Homo sapiens: one gene and its partners. The protein of the gene in region 3 interacts with the protein of the main gene of each other region in a biochemical or structural test. Each region holds a gene or a part of one and is shown on either strand. Other genes may lie near its edges. The genes, in order: GNAZ, BRAF and RAP1GAP.

Region 1 (7,000 bases), on a different chromosome or scaffold from region 3:
TGGATTTCCCCGCAGCACCACGTGCAGCCCCCAGCTCCTTGGTCTCAGCCCAAGCCCCCCTCTACCTCCTTCTGCAGGAGTGAGGCAGCCCCTGCCCACTGTGCTTAGGCACCTCACGGTGCTCCCACAGCCTGAAGCCTCCACCTTGCTCTGGTCCCTGCCTATCTGCTGGCTCCTGGGCTGGCCCATCAGAGTGCCCTCAAGGGAAAGCAGGGGCCAGGTCTCCCTCCTGGTGCTTTTCCTCCCTGTGATCAGAAGTGACCCAGCTCCTGCGGGGGTAATGAGAGTCAGGGAGGCGCTCAGTTATCCCAGGGCTGGGCCGAGGCCTGGCCACCCGTGTAAAACAGGGCAAGGCTGAGCTCTATCAGTGCTGTCTGGGAGAAGGGCCCCAGGGGGCATCACAACAGGGTGACCTTATTGAATCCTAACTGGATGCGGTAGAAGTGAGTCCAGCATGGGGGCTGGGTGGGCAGAGGCCTCGCACACACCCTCCTCTCCCTCATGCACCTGGCTTCAGGTGGACTGTCCAGGCAACAGCAGACATATGTGTTACACCATGGTGTGGGCCCTACAGCGCCCCATGGAGGAGAGGGGGTTGGATGGATTGTTGCCGGCTCATTTTCCAAGGCCAGTCTCTGCTGCTTTGCTTTCAGAAGAGCTCCCTTTCACTGTCCAGCCTGAGGTGGGGCTGCGGGGAGGAGGCTCACGCTTTTCTCTGTGTTTGGCAGGTGAAGGGCTGGATGCACAGTGGGAGCCGGAGGCGGGGGGCTGCAGGGAGCACACCAGCGACCGGCCCTCCAACCCTCCAGCCACTCAGCAACATCGCCACAGCAACCAGCAACCAGACGGCAGCAGCCGAGGCAAACACAAGCGGACGGCTTCCCACCGTCGCCGAGGACAGGGAATGACTACGGCAAATCAGGCCACTTTGCCAACTAGGGAGGTGGAGTGTCACTAGTGGGGAGGGGCGGCCACCGCCCGCTGCACAGAGCGCCATGCCGGCTGGAGAAGAGGCGCTGGGGCAGGGGCTGCAGTGTGGCTCGGCCTCACCCCCCTGCTGGCACTGAGTGCCTCCAGGGCAGCTGGGCTCTTGTCTGCCTGGTCTCAGTGTCCCCTGTGGCAAGAGGGAGAGGTGCCCCATCCCGTGCTCCTTGTCTGGGCCCGCTGCTGCCAGACCATGGGATGTCGGCAAAGCTCAGAGGAAAAAGAAGCAGCCCGGCGGTCCCGGAGAATTGACCGCCACCTGCGCTCAGAGAGCCAGCGGCAACGCCGCGAAATCAAGCTGCTCCTGCTGGGCACCAGCAACTCAGGCAAGAGCACCATCGTCAAACAGATGAAGATCATCCACAGCGGCGGCTTCAACCTGGAGGCCTGCAAGGAGTACAAGCCCCTCATCATCTACAATGCCATCGACTCGCTGACCCGCATCATCCGGGCCCTGGCCGCCCTCAGGATCGACTTCCACAACCCCGACCGCGCCTACGACGCTGTGCAGCTCTTTGCGCTGACGGGCCCCGCTGAGAGCAAGGGCGAGATCACACCCGAGCTGCTGGGTGTCATGCGACGGCTCTGGGCCGACCCAGGGGCACAGGCCTGCTTCAGCCGCTCCAGCGAGTACCACCTGGAGGACAACGCGGCCTACTACCTGAACGACCTGGAGCGCATCGCCGCAGCTGACTATATCCCCACTGTCGAGGACATCCTGCGCTCCCGGGACATGACCACGGGCATTGTGGAGAACAAGTTCACCTTCAAGGAGCTCACCTTCAAGATGGTGGACGTGGGGGGGCAGAGGTCAGAGCGCAAAAAGTGGATCCACTGCTTCGAGGGCGTCACAGCCATCATCTTCTGTGTGGAGCTCAGCGGCTACGACCTGAAACTCTACGAGGATAACCAGACAGTAAGTGGGGCCGGGGGTTTTCCTCTGCTTGTTCCTGCTGTCGTGGGTTCCTGGAAGCAAGAGGACTCGTGAGGTCCAGGACAGTCTGCAGCCAGAAAGGGAACCAGGCGCAGGCCTGGCCCTGCTGCACGATAACTGAGGCAGCTCCAGCAAGGTGGGGGCAGAGGGAACAGGGTGTGGAGTGCAGGTGTCATGTCCCATGCCTGAAGTACTCAGGGTGTGGAGGCCACAGGGCAAGAGAGTGTGAGGCTCCGCCGGGCATCCATGATCAATCCATGTGATAGTTTGGCAAATCCATGAAGCTCCTGCCAGCACCAGTCTCCTACCAGCATATAGGTCCAGGAACAGCAGCCACCCCTGCAACCCCATCTTGAGTCTGCAAATCTGGCAGAGATGGGGTTAAGAGCTGTTTAGAAGGGATAATCCCAGGTCCTGGTGGAAAGGGGACGACGTAAAAGCAGGTGTTGGGATTCTTTCACAGTGGCATGGGCGCAGCCCGAGGGAGACCTGGACCCAGTGTGAAGCGGTGGGGGCTTGAGAGTGGAGTTGCTGGAGAGGGTGGGGAGCCGGGTGAAGCAGCAGGGCAGTGTGCTGAGGCCCAGCCAGGACAGAAGGTCTAGCACACGAAGGGGGCCACAGCCAGGAGTGGCAGCGGTGGAGGCCGTGGCAGGCAAGGGAGGGGCTGTCTTGCCCAGCAGGATTCCCTGAGCACAGATTTCAAGTCTGCCCTTAAGAGAGAGGCCTTTGACCCTGGGGATGGGGGAGTGGGGGCAAACAAGGAGTCACGAAGTTGTGGGTACCCTGGGGCTAGGGGAGGGTGATGCTGGGAGACAAGGGCTCAGCCTCTCCACTTGGGAGCACTGGCCTCCGAGGTCACTCCTTGCTTCACCCAGTCCTAAGGCAAGCTTTATTCTTTAGGTTCAGCGGAGAGCAACAATGGTTCTAGCTTTGGACCTGTGCCCCAGCCAGGGAACCTGGACAGCTCTAGGCAGTGGCCATGGTGCTAGGAGCCTGAGTGTTCTGAGAGAGAGGATCTTTGGCTTTCCTCAGGCAGCTGGGGAGGCGGGCTTGCCTCCCTCCCCTCCTCGCATCAGGGGTCTCCCTGGAACTGTGCCTAGGTGTTGATGGTGTGCCTGGGGGAAACGAATGACGGACGGGCAGGCAGGTGTGTACGCAGGCGGCTGCGTCCACCCTGTTCCCAGTGTGTATCTGTGTGCTCTCCAGGGTTCTGGCCCCTTACCCTGTGGTTGCCACAAGTTCAGCCCCATGTGTGGTTCTGGGCAGAGGGGACATCTCAGCAGATGAGTGAGGTCAGGCTCCCTTGATGAGGCATGGCCGTGGGCAGAGCGCTTGGGGCTGAGAAGCTGCAAGGCAAAGTGAGGTGCTCAGGCCAGACCCTTGGGACAGTGCCATGGTGGGTCTGCCAGTCACACGGGCTTGCGCCACTGGCCTCACCCATCACCACAGTGGCAGGCGTGGCAAATTCCCCGGGCACCAGGCCTGGCTCCCAGTTGCATCCTTTGACAGGCCGTGCCCACAGGTGTGCTGGACACAGGAGGCAGGATACCTGGGTCCTGAGTCAGTCCAGTTTTTCATGGAGGGCTTTGGCTGTCATGTTTGCTTTCTGAACTTGTCAGTGAGGAGATGACCCAGGTGTCTTCACAGATGGGCCCAAGGCTAGGCCTTTGCCTGCCTGCAGCCCTCTTGGCTCTTACTGGCCTGTGCCTGCCACCTTGCTGCCTCTCTCTCCTCTCCTTCTGCTCTAGCCGTGGTCAGCTTGTTTTGCTCCAGCAGTACTGCTCTGTCCAGCCTTAAGCTTGTAATGATCCTGATCCCTGCCTCTCGTACCCCTGCCCTTATCCTCCAGGTCTCATCCCAAGTGGCGCCTCCTGGGAGGCCTTTTCTGACCTAGCCCGGCACCTGCTTACTCCTCCATCTAGTGATGTGTGAGTGAGCTCCTCGGGGCAGGCCCTAGATGGGCTGGGTGGCCCCTGTGGGGCCTCACATCTCTAGCTTTCCCTCTCCCAGGCCTGTCCCTGGGGAGAGCCATGGTGGGCAGCCATGGGCAGGGACAGCAGCCACTGGCCTGGTCTCAGGGATCCCTGTGAGGTTCCAGGCATTCAAGGCACTTTCTAAAGGGAGGGGCTGGCAGCCAGGCTGGCACACCCACCACCATCACCCTGGTTTCTGCAGGCCTGGGGAAGTGGTTGTTCACCAGAAAAGGAAATTCTTGATGAGAAACCCAAGCGAGGCTGGAAATTCACTGGATTCCAAATGATTCTGACCTTTCATGCTCTACCAGTAATATCTGGAGATGGAAAACAAACAGGCTGCAGAGGAAAGACAATCCCCTCCCGCGATTCCTCCCGCAGGCTGGGCTGGCCCCGGAGGTGAGCTGGCCCCCAGAGTGGTGCCGGCAGTGAGGACAGCCCGTCTCCAGCCGGGCCAGGGCCAGAGCCAGTGCTGGCACGGGCTGGCACAGGGCTGCCACTCTGCTCTCTCCTTTTGGAACGTGCTGAACTGTCCTCCCTGGGCCCTGTCAAAGGCAAGGCAGCCAAGAACAGGCCATGCTCGTTTTCACAAAAGCCGAATGAACCTTGGGGCCCAGTGCCAGGGCTCTGGACACGGCTCCTCCATAGCCCTCCTTCCGTGCTCAGCTTCCAAGGCCTCATCTTCCCTGATGCTGGCAGTGCCTCCCCACCCCCACGCCTGGCGAAGGAGCCACAGCCCCCCGGCCCACCCGCTGGCTTCTGCGTCAGCACGTTGCCAAGGAGAACGTCAGTGTCTCTGGGCTCCCGGGTGTGAGGGCTGCAGTGAGTGCAGGGCAGCACCTCAGAGCAGGGAAGGCAGATTTCCGGGTGTCTGTGGAGCATGGCAGCGAGCCACATGGGGAGCCACGCCCCTCCATGGCCACGGTTCCCACCCTCGTCCGAAGGAATTGGCAGTCCCTTGCCCTGACTAGGGCCAAGTCCTGCAGGTGTGTCAGGCACCCCAGTGCCCCCAAGCCCAACACCCAGCTGGGGCTTCCTCAGGCAGCACAGGAGGCCTGAACACAGCCCAGCAACACAAGGGGGTTTTTCTGGCGCACCTGTCCCCTGAATGATCCTGTGGGGCAGCAGCGCCTGTTATTTTTGTCACAGATCGAGGCACTGAGGCTCAGGCACACAGCTGGCGCTGGCGGGCCCCCAGCCCTCAAGTCCACAAGGACAGCTCCTGAGAGGCCATGTGTCACAGGACCCACCACGGGCCTCCCACTTAGCCAGAGCCATGGCAGAGGCTCTGCCCCTCGTCTTTAGTACATTCACACAAGGGTCAGTCAGCAAAGACAGTCACTCTGCTGCCCTAGGAGGGAAAGGCAAAGTGGAGAAGCTGGCACCTACCAGCCCACACTGAGGGACAGACACAGGTGGCTGTGACCAGCAGAGCCTGGGTCTTCACTCGGCCCCACTGGAGGCACCTGAGGGGGTAGGTGGGCACTTGTTGCCCAACCTCTGCCCTTGCGGATCAGCTAATGGACTCTGCTGGCCACCAAATGGTGTGGGATCCTTCAGAAGGCAAGATTAAAAGGTCTAGTTGTAAAGCATCAAATGTTCTCATGTGGAAACCCACAGGGAGCTCACTGCCCATTTCCCGACGGAGCTGTCAGCATTCCCAGCCCTGTGGCGGGTCTGTTTTGCACCTGTGATGGACCTGCTGTGCAGGCTCAAGGCTCAGGCTGGGGCCAAGTATGAGGGTGAGCACAACTCTCCCAGCAGCACAGGGAACTGGGGGACAAGGAGGAGGCAGTCACACCAGCCCAGCTACAGCTTCATTTCCACAAAGCCTCTGCTACCAGGGATACCTGCCCTGTCTTTCTAGAGCTGGCAGGCAGCAGTTCCCAGCAGTGTCCCCATTGTGCTTTCATCTAGGACCCACAGTAGTCACTTGGGCCCCACAGGCAGGCTGGGTCACAGCAGGGTTCACCGTGGGAGGCCTGGTGTCTCTGCCACTTATCTGAGAGACAGCTGGTCAACATGTTATCAGTGAGGGTATCCAGGGGACGGGGGACATAAGAACATGCCTTTTGTGGGGCAAGTTCTGCAGGTGGCAAGTGCTTGAGCAGCCAGCCTCCAGGCAGGTGGTCTATGCCTGGCCCTGGATAGTGGTCCCTTGTCCTGGGGCCATTGGCTTCCTGAGGAACCCCTCCCCACTCCAGGGCAGGTCAGCAGCCTCAGCACACCACGAGGGCAGGTCCACACCCACCCGGCACAGCCTGTGCTCTGAGCAGAGGGCCTGGCACACAGTGGGTGCTCTGCAGACTTTGTGGAGCGGGCGGGAGGCGGTAGGCTTGGGAAGAGCTGGAGCTCCAGAGCCCTGGCTTCTGGGTGCAGAGCAGCTGGGACACTCAGCCCTTCCCAAGGAGACCCTATGGGTGCTCGTCCATAACAGGAGTGTATGCAGTACCCTGAGGAGGGGCTGCCCAAGGCCGTCCTGTGAACACAGCGTGTTCCTGCCACCCTAGCGCTGTGGTTTATCATTTAGCCCAAAAAGGGTGCTTGTTTTAGTGCTTTTAAAATGGAGTTTAAACATTTGTGCCATAAAATGGCGTGTTGTGGGTGAAACAAGGTGTTTCCAGTAAGACAGGCTTATACCTATTGATGACAGAGCTGGTTATATTTGCCCAAGGAGGGAATTACAAATGGGCAATAGCCAGACACAGATGATACCCTCTCCCCAGCATACCAGGGCTTAGATTGAGAAGGGACCTTATATATCCTTTAGTGTTCCTAACCAGCCGGCTTTGCAGATGAGGAAACTGAGCCTCAGAGAGGTTCCTTCACATACCGCAGGGCTGAGACTCTGGCTCTCAGGGAGGGTCCTGGCACTGGCCCCTGGGAATTCCAGTGGCCCCCCTCTTCACCATACTGGTCCCACATCCTGTGGGTGCTGGGGTTCTCCAGCAAGGGCCTTGGGGGTATAGACTGGGTTCCACCCTTGGAGCTGCTGTGTAGCCAGCCTTCCCTCAGGAGAGTGGAGGACAGTGACACCTGGGCTTGGGAGAGGTGAGTGGCTGTGAAGGTTGACACTCCCCTCGTCCCCTTGTCTCCTGGCCTAGTCAGT
Region 2 (7,159 bases), on a different chromosome or scaffold from region 3:
GAAATTATAGAAGGAGCTCTATCAATAAAGAGACCCCTGACCTTGTGCCTCAAAATGGCCAAACATTTGGAGCATTCCACAAAGTCAATTTTGTAAAAACTTTGTTAGTTACATGCTTGCTAGTCTTCTATTTGTGAATGAATAAAACCCTATCTAACAATTACTAATAATCATATATTTAATGCCACTGGAGGATTTAAAAATCATATACTTAGATATTTTCCAATAGTTGTACTTCTTTATTCCTTAGTATCATTTTTAAAAATACGTGAAATGTTCCTTTTCATTTTCTTAACTAAAGTCATGAATCAATTCTGATTCATAATGGCATTACTTATCTTAAGCTACCCAAATGAGGGGTTAAAGATTTGCCGTAATTATTATTGAGTGATTTTCCTGGATGACATCTAAGTATTCAAATAAAGAAAATGTTTCAAAAATTTATTTGTGGGTACTTAAAAACTAAATTATCATTAATTTAAAGTCTTCTCAATTTCCTTCTTTATTGACTTCAAGGAGGCATTTATGCAGATATGTGTTTACTGGAAGAACCTTGATCTATTGGCTACATTTAAAAATCATGACAAAACCAAATTGAGTAAGTGAAGATATAGTTAAGAGGCTGACAGTGAAGCAGAGATGGCCAAATCTTTGATAGGACCACGTGCTGTTGCTTTCTACTTTTGATTCCCTCTGAATCACAGTAAGAATACACTGACCACCACATTACAGTCATTTTCTACACAACAAAGTGTAAGTACTAAAGAACCCTAACAAATACTTCATACCATTGAATGAAAAAAGGAGAAGAGCATTCATTCATCATAAGTAGAATCTTGCTGGGCAAAGAATATAAGGAGGACAGAACATGAGACACAATGATAAGGTGATTGCTAAAATATGCATCATGAGAGGTAAGAATAATCTAATAACAACTTTAAAAAATCTATTACCTGGTGTTTGGCAACCAGAGGTATCTCAAAGAAAAACACACCTAAAAGTTCTCACAGAATTCTGTGAAGATTTTTTGCAGGGGAGAGATTGGGTGTGAAGGGAGCAATGCGTTTGCAACAAAATTTGACTTCTACATGAGCGAGACATCCTTAATGTATTTTAAAAAAAGCTATTTAAAAGAAACTCCAATTTATAACATTTTCCCGCTAAAAATCCGAAGTTAAGACATTTTACTCATGTCAAACGTGCCACTCCTCAGCAATATTTTTGGTCACCTGCACTCAAAATTTATAAAAAGAAACTTAGTTTATTGCTTCAAGGAAATAAAAGACATCCACATTTTCCAAATTGTTATAAAAAGAAATAGTTATAGAAAAATTATTAAGAATAATAATAGAATTATTAAATTCTACTGACTTCCTAAATTAGATCTGTTCAGTTTGCCTTATCTAACCCAGGCTAACCGACTGCCAACTTCTCACCTGCAAACACAGGCATAGGTAGGGTCTTCTTCTGGAGTCCCTAGTGGACATGTGATAGCTGGCAACAAAAGTTGCATGAGAAACTGAAGTTTACTACTTAAAATAACCAAGTGAATGATACAAACCCGGAACAGAAAGTAAAGCCTCTAGAAGAGGCTCTGCCAATTTTTAGCAATGTCTATGTATTTTAACCCTTGGATGTTAAAAATCCAATGTTAAGTATAAATTTTAGTTTGGGGAAAAATTATATCTAGTCTTTAACCACACAAGTGTTCTTTGGTTCACCTTAAAAAAAAAGAGAGTATTTTATTCAATTTAACATATAAGCAAACATATGTTCATTTATTTTCCTTTTGTTGCTACTCTCCTGAACTCTCTCACTCATTTGTTTCAGTGGACAGGAAACGCACCATATCCCCCTGCCTGGATGGGTGTTTTTGGAGAAGCACAAGCATATAGACTAAAATCCTCTGTTTGGAAACCAGCCCGATTCAAGGAGGGTTCTGATGCACTGCGGTGAATTTTTGGCAATGAGCGGGCCAGCAGCTCAATAGAGGCGAGAATCTACAAAAAAAAAAAGAAAAAAAAAAGAAAAAAAAAGAAAAAAGAAAAAAAAAGAAAGAAAGAAAAAGAAAAAACAGAAAGAAGAATGAAAATCTGGGTGGTATAAATCTTTAAGAGTCCCATCACACTTTACAAGAAAGCACCTGAAATCTTACATTGTTTTCAGCATTGTCATAAATGCTTGGGAAAATATTTGTAAATAATTGGTATTTTTTCTTAAGAAGAAACTCTCTCTGTAAATTAAATGGGGAGAGTAATTCTTAGTCAGCTTTTATTTATATTTTAGATCATTTGTTAGTCTTGAAACAGTAAATAATAGAAATTTAAAACCAATTTTATACCTTTTTGTTATAGACCACAAGTCTCTTTTGGGAAGAAGATGGAGTATAAATAAGTAAAGCACTTTATGACTATCTCTAAACAGAATTATCACAGCTACTTGCCCTTTAAAGAAACCTAGCCATGGGAAATGTTTTACATACACCTAATTGAAAGCAGAACCTCACAGACCCAGAGTGCTAGTAGCACATGAGAAGTGACAGGGGACAACCCAAGAGCAAAGATAGGAGAACTCGACAAATAGACCCCAATATATAAAATGCAGAAATTCACAATTTTAAGGCACAAAGAAACAGGTTATAATCCTTGAAGGCATACAGCATGATAATGCATGTTCATAATCATGAAACATGTTTAAAGGGCTTGGCATAATGCCTGGCCTATAATAAGCACTCAATAAAACCTTAGCAGCTATTATTATTACTTTTGTTATTGTCCTGAGATACCAATTTTTTTTTTTTTTTGAAACGGAGTCTCGCTGTTGTCAACCAGGCTGGAGTGCAGTGGCACAATCTCAGCTCACTGCAACCTCCCCCTCCTGGGTTCAAGCGATTCTCCTGCCTCAGCCTCCTGAGTAGCTGGGATTACAGGAGCGCACCACCATGCCCAGCTAAATTTTTGTATTTTTAGCAGAGACAGGGTTTCACCACGTTGGCCAGGCTGGTCTCAAACTCCTGACCTCAGGTGATCTGCCTGCCTCGGCCTCCCAAAGGGCTGGGATTACAGACATGAGCCACCATGCCTGGCTGAAAATTGTTTTTAAAAGTTAAATTTTTTTTAAAAAGTAATCTTTATGATGATTAGTATAAGACAAAGAAGTAAGCAGTTGCAAAAAATTGTAAATTCCAAGTATAACATGCAAATAAAAATTAAAATACTATAGAAATGTATAAAGAGTATAAGGCTCTCAAATCCTGCTCTCCAGGGATAACCACTGTTAGAGTCTATACTTTCTTCTGTACCTTTTTTTTTTTTTTTTGAGATGGAGTCTCACTCTATTGTCCAGGCTGGAGTGCAGTGGCGCGATCTCAGCTCACTGCAACCTCCGCCTCCCAGGTTCAAGCGATTCTCCTGCCTCAGCCTCCCGAGTAGCTGGGATCACAGGCGTGTGCCACCACGCCCGGATAATTTTGTATTTTTAGTAGAGACGGGTATCACCATTTTGCCCAGGCTGGTCTCGAACTCCTAACCTCAACTGATCCACCCACCTTGGCCTCCCAAAGTGCTGGGATTACAGGTGTGAGTCACTGCGCCTGGCCTCTTCAGTACCTTTTTTTATGTATAAAAATACATACATGAAAACAAGGCCCACCTGAACACCACTTTTTTTTTTTGGAGATGGAATTTCACTCTTGTTGCCCAGGCTGGAGTGCAATGGTGCGATCTCGGCTCACCGCAACCTCCGCCTCCTGGGTTCAAATGATTTTCCTGCCTCAGCCTCCCGAGTAGCTGGGATTACAGGCATGTGCCACCACGCCTGGCTAATTTTGTATTCTTAGTAGAGTCAGAGTTTCTCCATGTTGGTCAGGCTGGTTTCGAACTCCCAACCTCAGGTGATCCGCCTGCCTCGGCCTCCCAAAGTGCTGGGATTACAGGCGTGAGCCACCGTGCCTGGCCTCTGTTTAACCTTTTAAAGTGGTTATCAGGCTGGGCACTGGGGCTCACGCCTGTAATCCCAGCACTTTGGGAGGCTGAGGCGAGAGGATCGCTTGAGGCCAGGAGTTCAAGACCAGCCAGGGCAACATAGTGAGAATCTATCTCTACAACCACCACCACCACCACCACAAGAAATTAGCTGGGTGTGGTGATAGGCACCTGCAATCCCAGCTACTTAGGAGGCTGAGGTGAGAGGATCGCTTGAGCCCAGGAGTTTGAGGCTGCAGTGGGCTATGATCATATTACTGCACTCCAGCCTGGGCAACAGAACAGGCCCAGCCTATAAAAAAAAAAAATGAGGTATCATACTACATTTTGTTTTCTGTCTTGTTTTCTTTTTCTCTCACCAATATCCATGTCATCAATACAAAACTAACTTAATCTTAATGTCTTTTTCTTATTATAGTAAACATTCTTATATATATCTGAATACTTATGAAATAGGTTACATAGCACAGATTTTTAGAAGTATTTTGAATTTATGGATTCTACCAAGGTCTTCCAAAATGCTGCCTTCCACCAAACCTTTAAAATTTTACATAGAATGCTCCTCCTCACTTCCCAACATTGTTCCCAGTGCTGGATATTACCAACCTGAGAGGCGAAATTAAAATATATTTCACTGTTGTGTCTTTGCATTTTACTGACTGCCATGGAAATATTTACACCTTTTCCTAAGTTCATTCACCATTTGTATTTATTATGTGAATCACCTGTTCATATTCCCTTTGCCCATTTTCTATTGTTTGTTACTTATTGATTTGGAGGAGTCCTTTGTATATTATAAACATTTACTTTTTGTTATATATGCTACAATTATTCTTTTTATCTTTCAATGTTATTTTTCTATATAGAAGTTTAAAAATTTTTAATGTACTCACATCTGCTAATTTTTTCCTTCTGAATTTTGTCTATTAAGAAAGCCTTTCCTACCTCAAAACTATAAAAATGATTTCATATTTTATAAAACATATAGATCTTCAGCCATCTAAAATTTATGTGGCATATAACAGTATGGTGTGAAAAGATATCCTGTAACAAAAATTTCAAAATAACACTTTAAAGGGATAGCCTCCAATAATCTGGAAAGTTCACATATGCACTTCAGTTTTTGAAACCATGTAATTAATGAAATGTTATATTTAGAAGTATGGAGCTAAGCATTTTGCCCCTTTTAATATCATTTAAAAAGTGGGCCTAAGGATGTACTTTGCATTATTAATGTCAATAAACATTCTAAGTAAGAACCCGAGCACCATGACGTGAAAAGAGAACATGGGACAGGGTCATGCTGAAGCTGCTCAGCAGCACTTGTCTCTCACCAGGACAGTCTCAACCCAGAGGTTTCCTGACTTAGAGAAACAAATAAAAAAATAAAAAGAAAAAATAAAAACTCTTCCTCAAAGGAACAGTAACTTTGAAACCTGATAAATGAAACTTATATCTACCCAGCCAACCACTTAGCTTTCCCTTTCTTTTCTTAGGCAACACCCTGACAGACTTGTTAAAACCATCAATTTTATCTTCTTTCATTCTTTAGAGAAGAATAACATTTTTTAGATTTAAAAATAAAGGATGAGTGAATCTAATTCCTGTAACATTGACTTCTGTCTGAGTTACTCAGCTAGGACTGGGCATTCAAAGGCCTAAGAGTTCATACATGAACACTCCAGTAATTATGGTAGCAGGGTTACTATGGGAAATAGCACTTCCCACTTGAAACTGTACTGATTCATCAAGGCATATTTATCCAGTGCTATCAGGAGCTCCCTAAGTATCAGAAAACATTGCATTTATATTATAATATCTACTACAGCTAAACTCTGTAAGCTAGTTGAGGTATTTAGATATTTTTGTTTTGTTTTGTTTTAAACAGAGTCTCATTCTGTTGCCCTGGCTGGAATGCAGTGGTGTCATCTCAGCTCATTACAATCTCCACCTCCTGGGTTCAAGCGATTCTCATGTCTCAGCCTCCTGAGTGGCTGGGATTACAGGCTCCTGCCACTATGCCCAGCTAATTTTTGTATTTTTAGTAGAGACGGTTTTCACCATGTTGGCCAGGCTGGTCTCGAACTCCTGACCTCAACTGATCTGCCTGCCTTGGCCTCCCAAAGTGTTGAGATTTGTAAGCCACGACACCTGGCCTTAGTTACAGTTCTTTTTGAAATTTGTTAACTTAAGGCTTTATCCTTCCAATATGGAAAAAAAAAAAAAAAAGCAGTGAGTTATCAAGAATTAGGTAAAGGCAGGCTGAGCTGACAAATGCCTTACTGCCTTTTCCTTTTTCTGCATCAGGCAGAAATGCCCCTCAAAAAGACCCAGTATTAAAGGAAAGCTTGAATCTGTTTACCACCAAGAAGAAATAAAGCAGTGGTTCACAAAATGTGGTCCGTGGACCACCAGGGGATCCACGAGGTCAAAACTATTTTTGTAATAACAATAAGATATCATTTGCCTTTTTTACTGTCATTATTTTACAAGCGTTAAGTAGAGTTTTTAGGGGTGACATGATGTGAGATATTGCAATGTGAGTGCAAAAGCGGAGAATCCAGCTGTCTTCTTTTTGCAAAGGGATTTGCAAAAAAAGTAAAACAATACAACTCCTCACTAATTTTTTTCTCTTAGATAATAGAACTGTTTTTTTCTAAATATTATTTAACATATTGGTTTACTATGTTTAATTCATTAATATTTTAAAAAATAGTTTTAATTTCTAATAAGGAATTAAAACTTATATAAACAAAAGCTCTTTGTGGGGGGGGGGGTCTTCGATAATTTTTAAATGTGTAAAAGAGTTCAAAGACTGAGAAGTCTGAGAACTGATGGACAAATGCAAAGTCTTTCTGAATATTTTGTATTAGGACCCAAAATTTCTAGGTGTGCCACTGCTCAACCCTCATGAAGCCATCTTAATGTGTTTTCTTGTCTGGAGTCTGCACATAGAATCCAAACTCATGAAATACACACTGTGTGCCCAAAAAAGTGCTCAGAAATCTGTCTATGAATGTTAGTCTGTTCTTTTGGATAGCATGAAGCTTTTACTTACTTGGGGAAAGAGTGGTCTCTCATCTCTTTTCTTTTTGAGGCACTCTGCCATTAATCTCTTCATGGCTTTTGGACAGTTACTCCGTACCTTACTGAGATCTGGAGACAGGTATCCTCGT
Region 3 (7,159 bases):
ATGGCTACCGCTCCCCGCCCCCCAGGGCTCTGTGGGATCTGCAGCCTAAGGGCAGTGGTCAGAGGGCAGTGTAGCAACCCAAGTCCCACCCCGTGCCAGCTAGGGCCCCTCCCCGGAACCTCCAAATTGGCTGGGGGAGGTTCTGGCCCAGCAGCTGGAAGACTCCCCCAGCTTCCCACACACTGTGCTGGGATGCCCCAGGCCCCAGAAGCCCGCCCCCAGCTTCTCTGGAGGCAGGAAGGGGTAGGACCCCAGGTCACTTCGTGGCGGGGAGGAGGAGTCAGGGCAGAGGAGAGGGATGGCGCTCCATGCAGACCGGCGATATTGGGGGACGTGCGGCTGGGTGTAGGGCCTTTGGGTACCGGATCCTGGCAGGGACTGGGCCAGGGTCCCAGGGGCCAAGGCAGGGCCAGAAGCCCCTGGTGAGGGGCACTGGCTCTGGCACAGGTACCAGGCCCCAAAGCAGGTGCTGAGTGCCATCGGAGCTGCCGCCACTCCATCCCGCACGCCCTGGGGCCTGTCCCGGGGGCAGAGGGGCAACGTCCCCAATATGGCCTCCGTCCTGAGAGCGAGCAGAGAACAGCGCGTGCAGGCAGCCTCCAGAGCCGGCGGCCCCGCGGACGACAACCTCTTCCACGGTTCCTATGCCTATGGCACTGCCCCGGCGTCCGAATCTACTCGCACTTTTCCCAGGAATAAGCAATGACTGGCAAGCAGCAGAGGGCGGGGGCAGAGAGAGAGAGACAGAGAGAGAGTCAGAGAGCAAGAGAGATGGTGGGAGGGAGACACAGAGAGGAGGAGAGGCAGGGAAAGGAGGAAGACAGACAGAAAAAGGAAGAGAACGGTGCAGGAGGCAATGGGAGAGATAGGGCCGGGGAAAGGAAGGCGAGAAGCACAAGGAGAGACAGAGGACAAGGGAGACGGGGGAGAGATGGACAGACAGTTACCCGGAGACAGGGACACGCGTGAGCCAGCGAGGGCACACCAGATGGGCACAGAGGGAAATCCAGAGAGACAGGGACGCAAGGACACAGACACAGGCCCAGGGAGGGTCAGAGACAGAGAAGGAAGCCAGGGGAAGGCCGAAAGGAAAAAGCGAGGGTGAGAAGAGCGGAGAAGGGAAGGAGGAGAGGGAGCAAAAAAGACAGGTGCAAGAAGGAAGGAGAAACAGAGAGCCAAAGGGCAGAGAGGCCACAGGACGGGGAAAGGGAAGGGAGGAGGGAACAAAAAAACAAGGAGAGAGAGTAGAATGAAAGGAGGAAACACAGAGAGAGGGAGAGTTGTGCAAAAACAAAACAGAAATGGGTCCGGTTACTGCCATGGTGGGTGCTGCTGGCCTGGTCCTGTCCCTGGGGCCCCTCTCGGCCACCCACAGGAGGCTGGGTCACTCTGGTGGAGAGGAAGGGAGTGGTTGATAAAACTGGGTTGGGGGAGGTTGGGCCTGCTCCTCGCATGACAGTGTGCTTGGTGACTGCTGGACAGCAGAGGTCGGGGAATTCCCTCCTGCCACGTGACATAGCCTCACAGCACTGAGCGCAGGGCTTGGCATGCAGTAGACAGTCAATAAAGGATGGATGGATGGATGGATGGATCGGTGGGTGGGTGGATGGATGGATGGAGATAGAGGGATGGATAGAGATGGATGGATGGATGGATGGATGGATGGATGGATGGATGGATGGGTGGATGGGTGGGTGGATGGATGGATTGATGGGTGGATGGGTGGGTGGATGGGTGGGTGGATGGATGAGTGGGTGGGTGGGTGGATGGGTAGATGGGTAGGTGGGTGGATGGGTGGGTGGGTGGATAGCTAGATGGGTGGATGGGTGGGTGGATGGATGGATGGGTGGGTGGATGGATGGGTGGCTGGATGGATGGGTGGGGAGCACAGCAGTGGGTGCAGTGTCCTGGGGTGGCCACTAGGCAGTGGACAGCAGTGAGGCCCACAGCCATAGGCCGTATTCATCCATGTGCCCAGCACTCCTGAGTGTGAGCAGCAGAATCCCAGAACCTGGACAACAGTCAGTGATCACACAGGAGGTGCTCCCTCTGGAGATGCTCACACAGAAGCCAGATTCCCGACACACAATAGGCAGCCACACCACAGAGGCCCTGGCTGCTGCGGACACACAGTAGGAGGTGCTCACAGAGAAAGTACCCACACAACAGCTCACTTCCTGACACACAGTAGGTGTTCACTGACATCTAGGGCTTATCACACACGATGTGCTCACATAGCAGTCCATTTTCTGACACACAGTAGGTTCTCACACAGCAGCCCAGGGCTGCGCACACAGTAGGCGCTCACAGAGTTGATGCCCACACAGCAGCCCAGGACCTGACACACAGTGGGTGCTCACAGGTACTCAGGGCCAGGCCCACAGTAGATGCTCACAGAGTGCATGTCCACACAGCAGCCCAGGGCCTGACACACAGTGGGTGCCCACAGCCCGACACACAGTAGGTGCTCCCAGAAACCCAAGGCTTGACAGTAGGTGCCCACACAGCAGCCCAGTCCCCAGCAAACAGATAGATACTCAATAAGGAATGAGACACAGAGGCTGTCCCAGGGCTGACCTGCAGGAAGTCACACCTCAATGCATAAAGGGCCAGGAGGAGGGGAGGGCCAAGGAGCTTGGGAAGGGGCTGCAGGCTGCAAGCTGTCAGCACCGCAGTGTCCTGGCCTGGGCACTTCACCCCCCTCCCATGGAAAGTAGTGGCTAGACCAAATCCAGAGCCTAGGATGGGCATGTGGGCAGCAGGGCAACAGAGAGAGTTGGAGTCAGGCCTCAGGAGGCAGAGGAGAGCTGAGGGCCCCCCAGGGAGGGGCCGGGGCCTGGGGAGGGGGAGGGCACTCACTATTCCAGCCGCCTTGGCCAGGTCGGGGTTGTTGGGCGCGAAGCTCCCGCTGTGGCTGGTGGACACGGTGTTGGGCTTCTTGTTGCTCAGCCCCATGGCATCCATGGACTGGCTGCGGCTCCGGATGACCCGCTGTGAAGGGGGTGGCAGTGGAGGAGGCACAGGATTCCTAAGGGCCGTCCCCTTGGGGAAACCCAGGAGCCCAGGCATCTGGTCTCTCCCCAGCAATGCCACTCTGGGTAAGCCCTGGAAATCCCTTCCCCTGGGCATGTGGCCAGCAGGGCAACAGAGGGAGGTGGGGCCAGGCCTCAATTTCCCTGTGCGTCACATGAGAAGCAGGTACATACGGGGCCTAAGGGTAGCTCAGGTATTGGCTCTGCCACCAACTTGCCGGGTGGCCTTGGGGACACCACTTCAGTTCTCTCACTCTCTGGGACACACAGGCTGCTCTGTGCTGAGTGTCCTCATGTGGCTGCGTAAGGACTGCAGAAGACACTGGGTCATGGCCAAAAGTGTGCACAGAGAGCCCTCTTGACACCTCAGTTTCATTCCTGTTAGGGCCTCTTAGAGCTCTCCTGCCTTCTTTCTTTTCTTCCCTCCCACCCTCTTTCCTTGTTTTTTTCAGACCAATCTACACCAAATGCTTGCTATGGGACCAGCGCTTTACAATCACTCTATCACTGGATCCCCCTGCAAGATGGGGACTAGCAATCATGCCCATTTCATGCCAACTGAGGCAGGGGTGAGCCCGGCATGCCAGGACCCATGCCCTCAACTCTGGACTCCGCTGCTTCTGAGAAATTCTTTGACCTAATCTAGGTCCACCGTCCAGCACCTACCAGATGTGGGACCATCGGAGCCCTCCTCAAAGGAGACACCCCAGATCCATATTGACCCCACCTGTCCTGTCTCCAGTCCCCAAGCCTCTTTCTCAAAGACGATCTGTTCACCTCAGTTCCTGGGCAGGCCTGGGCAGCCGGGCTAATTCCCTTATTCCAACCCATAGCTCCAGCTGTGTGACCTGTCCTGGGTTGAGGGTGAGGTGTGACCAGCCGGCCGGGAAGCTGGAGGATGGGCAGTTATCCTCCTGTGGGTGGAGGAGACGGTGGCAAAAAGGCTACCACCTGGGGCCCTGTGGCCTGAGTGAGTCCAGACCCTGTCCAGGAACTACTCCACTCCCCACACTTCTCATTTCAGACAACATTTGCTGAGGCAGACAGGCAAGGTTTTGCATTTTGCTTTTAAACTTGTATTGCACTAACCTAACTCTTTTACAGATAACAATAACTGTATGAGGCAAGTTGCCATTACCCTACTCAACAGATAAAGAAACTGATGCTCACAGAATGCCCAAGCTGGTAAGTAACAGAGCTGAAATTTGAAGTGTCCGTGCTCTTAATGCTAAGCTAAACCAGGGACAGGCAGGGTAGGTCACACAGGCCAAGTCCCTCTCCAATGATCATGGTTCACACACCTCTTCTGAGAACTCTATTTCTTTCCCTCAGTCAAGACAGAGCCTCTTCCTCTCTTCTCTTCCTGCTGACCTAGCAGCCTTTGTACCAGCAGCCCTTGCTGTCTCCCAGAATCCTCCACCCTTCAGCAGAATTCCCAGGTGAATTCCCCACCTAGGCCCCACCTCCAACAGTTACTCCTCCCCAAGCCAGGGCCCCACCTTACATGCTGCTCCTTCAAACTCTACCCAAGGCAGACTATGTCCCCAAGTGTAAGCCCATTCTAAAGCCCAAGTCCACTTCGAGCCCCGCCCTCATCCCAGACTAGAGCCTCCTCTAGCCACACCCCCACGCCATGTCCATTAGCCCCGGCCCCTGACTCCACCCCCAGCCACGTCCCATCCCAGACTCTACCCGCAGGCGAGCGGCCTCTAGCCACACCTCCACACCATGTCAATCAGCCCCAGTCCGGGACTTCGCCCCAGCCACGCCCCCTCTCAGACTCCAATGCGAACGGCCTCTAGCTGCACTCCCCATGCTGTGTCAATCCCCCAGTCCGGGACTCCACCCCCTCAGCCACGCCCCTTCTGCCAGACTCCACCCCCACGCCGTGTCCATCAGTCTATCAGCCTCAGCCCGGGATTCCGCCCTAGCCACGTCCCTGCTCCCCGGCCAGTTAGACCTGGGGCCCTTCACCTTGAAAGACTCAAAGAAGCCGCCGCCCCCACTGCCATTCTCCATCTTGTCCTCGTCGCCGCCCAAGCCCATCATGGACTGGCTGTGGATGTGTAGTTCCTCATAGAGCGTCTCCAGGAGGGCGGCCCGCGTCCGCTCCTGTGGGCCAGGCCCGGGCCGTCAGGAGGGACCCCAAGGATCAGCCCTTCGGCCCACAGTTCAAATCCTGGCCACCTTCTGAGGCACGGGCCACCTTCTCTGAATGAGTGGGGAGTGGGGAGGGCGGAGGGCTCCTGCACCGCCTTCCCCCAGGCCACTCCACAGCTCAAGCATCCCCCAGGGACCCTCATATGAAGGGCCCCTCAAAGCCCCTTCAAGATCTGGCTTCATGTCCCCACCCCCCAGGTCCACCCCCCCACCTGACAGGTCCCAAGGTGTCCCTGTCAGCCTAACCGCCTCCCAGCATCTCCTGGGAACTCCTCAGTATCCCTCCGGCTTCCTCTCCCCGACCTCCTACTCGTCCATCAATCCATCCAGCCCCAGGTGTCCCCGCTAAGGCCAAGGTCTGAACATGGCTTTTCCCTTCCCAGGGACAGGGCTGAAGTTATAGGTTGGAAGGTGAGAAGAGGGTCACCCAGCCCTCACAGCCCATCCTCACCTCCAGTTTGGCAAACTTCTCTGCCTTGTAGCAGGCATATTCAGCATTGATCAGCTTTGTCAGCAAAAATTCCTGGAACTCAGGCCCCTGGAAACTCCCAGTGTGGAGGAGATAAGGAAGGGAAGTTGAGATGACACATAAACAAGGGTCGGAACCCCAACGAGGCAGAGGCTGCAGCTCCTGAACCATGCTCTGCTGGGGCCTGGGGTCACCCTCTTCACTCCCAAAAGGGTATCTCCCTGGGCTCAGCTCCCCAGGTACCTTCAAGGGGCCCCAGTGCCCTTCATGGCTGCCCACGCCTTCGGGAGAGCAAACTCCACAGATGTTAGGGTCTGGGTTGGGGTCTCAACCTACTGCTTCAGTCTAGGGTAGCAGAACACGCTACGTACAGAGCTGAAGCCCAGGCTTGAAGTGTGCCCCTCCCCAAACATTTTAGAAGAAAGAAAGAGACTGGAACTGTCAGAAAGAGAACAGAAATGAGGAGAGGCCAGTCTACTATGGAAAGTGTAAAACAATCGTGTAGTTTATCCTGTGACCTTGTGAAAAAAAAAAAAAAGGTGTTTTCAAGATGAATGGAAAAGCCAGGCCCCGGTTGCAGTTAGGGGAGCCCAGCTGCCCTGGCATACAATGAGACTTTGGGACCTCATAAGGCAGAATGTGTATGCACCCCCCAGGCCCCCACCCATTTGTCCTGCTCTGCCCATGACTGGGGGGGTGCCCCTCACCTTCCTGAACACAGCGGGGTCCGGGAGGGGGGGTCCAAAGAAGGGCACATCATCTCTTGCAGTGACAGAGACCTGGAAGGGAGGGCAGCTGTCTGTTCCTGTGGAGCCTGGGGTCTGCTCTGCCCCACCCAGCCAGAAACCCCTACTGTGCCTCCCTGGACTGCCCCTTGGTCGGGGAGACCCAGTGACTGTGGGCTGGATGAATCTTTCTTCCAGAGATTTCTGCCCTCTATCTTTTGCCCTGAATTTTAGTGGTGGAGATGGGTAGGGGCCTTAGGAATCATCGGGATGGTGAAGGCAGAGGAGGCTACGGGAGGTGGAGGACAGTGATACCAGGCCAGGAGGCAGAGGAGGGAAACTGTCCTCTCTGAGGGGGTGAGCTTTGGGGACGACAGGGGGCGTGGTGTGAACAGTGCACCATTGAAGCCTTCCATGGTCCCCCCATTATAGCTGGAAAAAGTGAGGCTCAGAGGGGCATCCCAGGGAGGGCAGAGCTGCAGCCAGGGCCCTTGCTGATGCCCCTGGGAGGCTCCAAGAGCGCCCACCTTGTAGAGGGGGCCATCAGGGCCCCCGCCCTCAGCCTGCACCACGACGTAGGCATGCAGGAAGTTGGACGCGATCATGTCGGGCACGAAAGGAGTGTTCTCATCCTGGAAGACCACAGCCACGATGTCGTTCCCGATGTGCCGCTTCCGCTGCAACTGAGCACAAAGCCACGGGCCTTCGTGGTCTGGCCAGAGGGGGCCCATGGGGGAGAGGGGTGCCCACGGGGGTTTAGGAGGGTTTGGGGT

What was found.
Region 1: the proteins of RAP1GAP (region 3) and GNAZ form a complex in vitro, tested with the Homo sapiens proteins (one study listed by BioGRID).
Region 2: the proteins of RAP1GAP (region 3) and BRAF form a complex in vitro, tested with the Homo sapiens proteins (one study listed by BioGRID).

What each region holds. Positions count from the first base shown.
Region 1 is NC_000022.11:23,094,519-23,101,518, forward strand, and holds part of GNAZ (guanine nucleotide-binding protein G(z) subunit alpha), read left to right. Parts: intron 1-728; 5' UTR 729-1,177; coding exon 1,178-1,900; intron 1,901-4,093; coding exon of another isoform or gene 4,094-4,294; exon of another isoform or gene 4,295-7,000. UniProt on the Homo sapiens protein: Guanine nucleotide-binding proteins (G proteins) are involved as modulators or transducers in various transmembrane signaling systems.
Region 2 is NC_000007.14:140,732,771-140,739,929, forward strand, and holds part of BRAF (serine/threonine-protein kinase B-raf), read right to left. Parts: coding exon 7,042-7,159; intron 2,001-7,041; coding exon 1,827-2,000; 3' UTR 1-1,826. UniProt on the Homo sapiens protein: Protein kinase involved in the transduction of mitogenic signals from the cell membrane to the nucleus. Phosphorylates MAP2K1, and thereby activates the MAP kinase signal transduction pathway. Phosphorylates PFKFB2.
Region 3 is NC_000001.11:21,603,207-21,610,365, forward strand, and holds part of RAP1GAP (rap1 GTPase-activating protein 1), read right to left. Parts: intron 7,070-7,159; coding exon 6,914-7,069; intron 6,441-6,913; coding exon 6,369-6,440; intron 6,100-6,368; exon of another isoform or gene 5,905-6,099; intron 5,731-5,904; coding exon 5,644-5,730; intron 5,145-5,643; coding exon 5,007-5,144; intron 2,992-5,006; coding exon 2,860-2,991; intron 707-2,859; coding exon of another isoform or gene 452-706; intron 1-451. UniProt on the Homo sapiens protein: GTPase activator for the nuclear Ras-related regulatory protein RAP-1A (KREV-1), converting it to the putatively inactive GDP-bound state.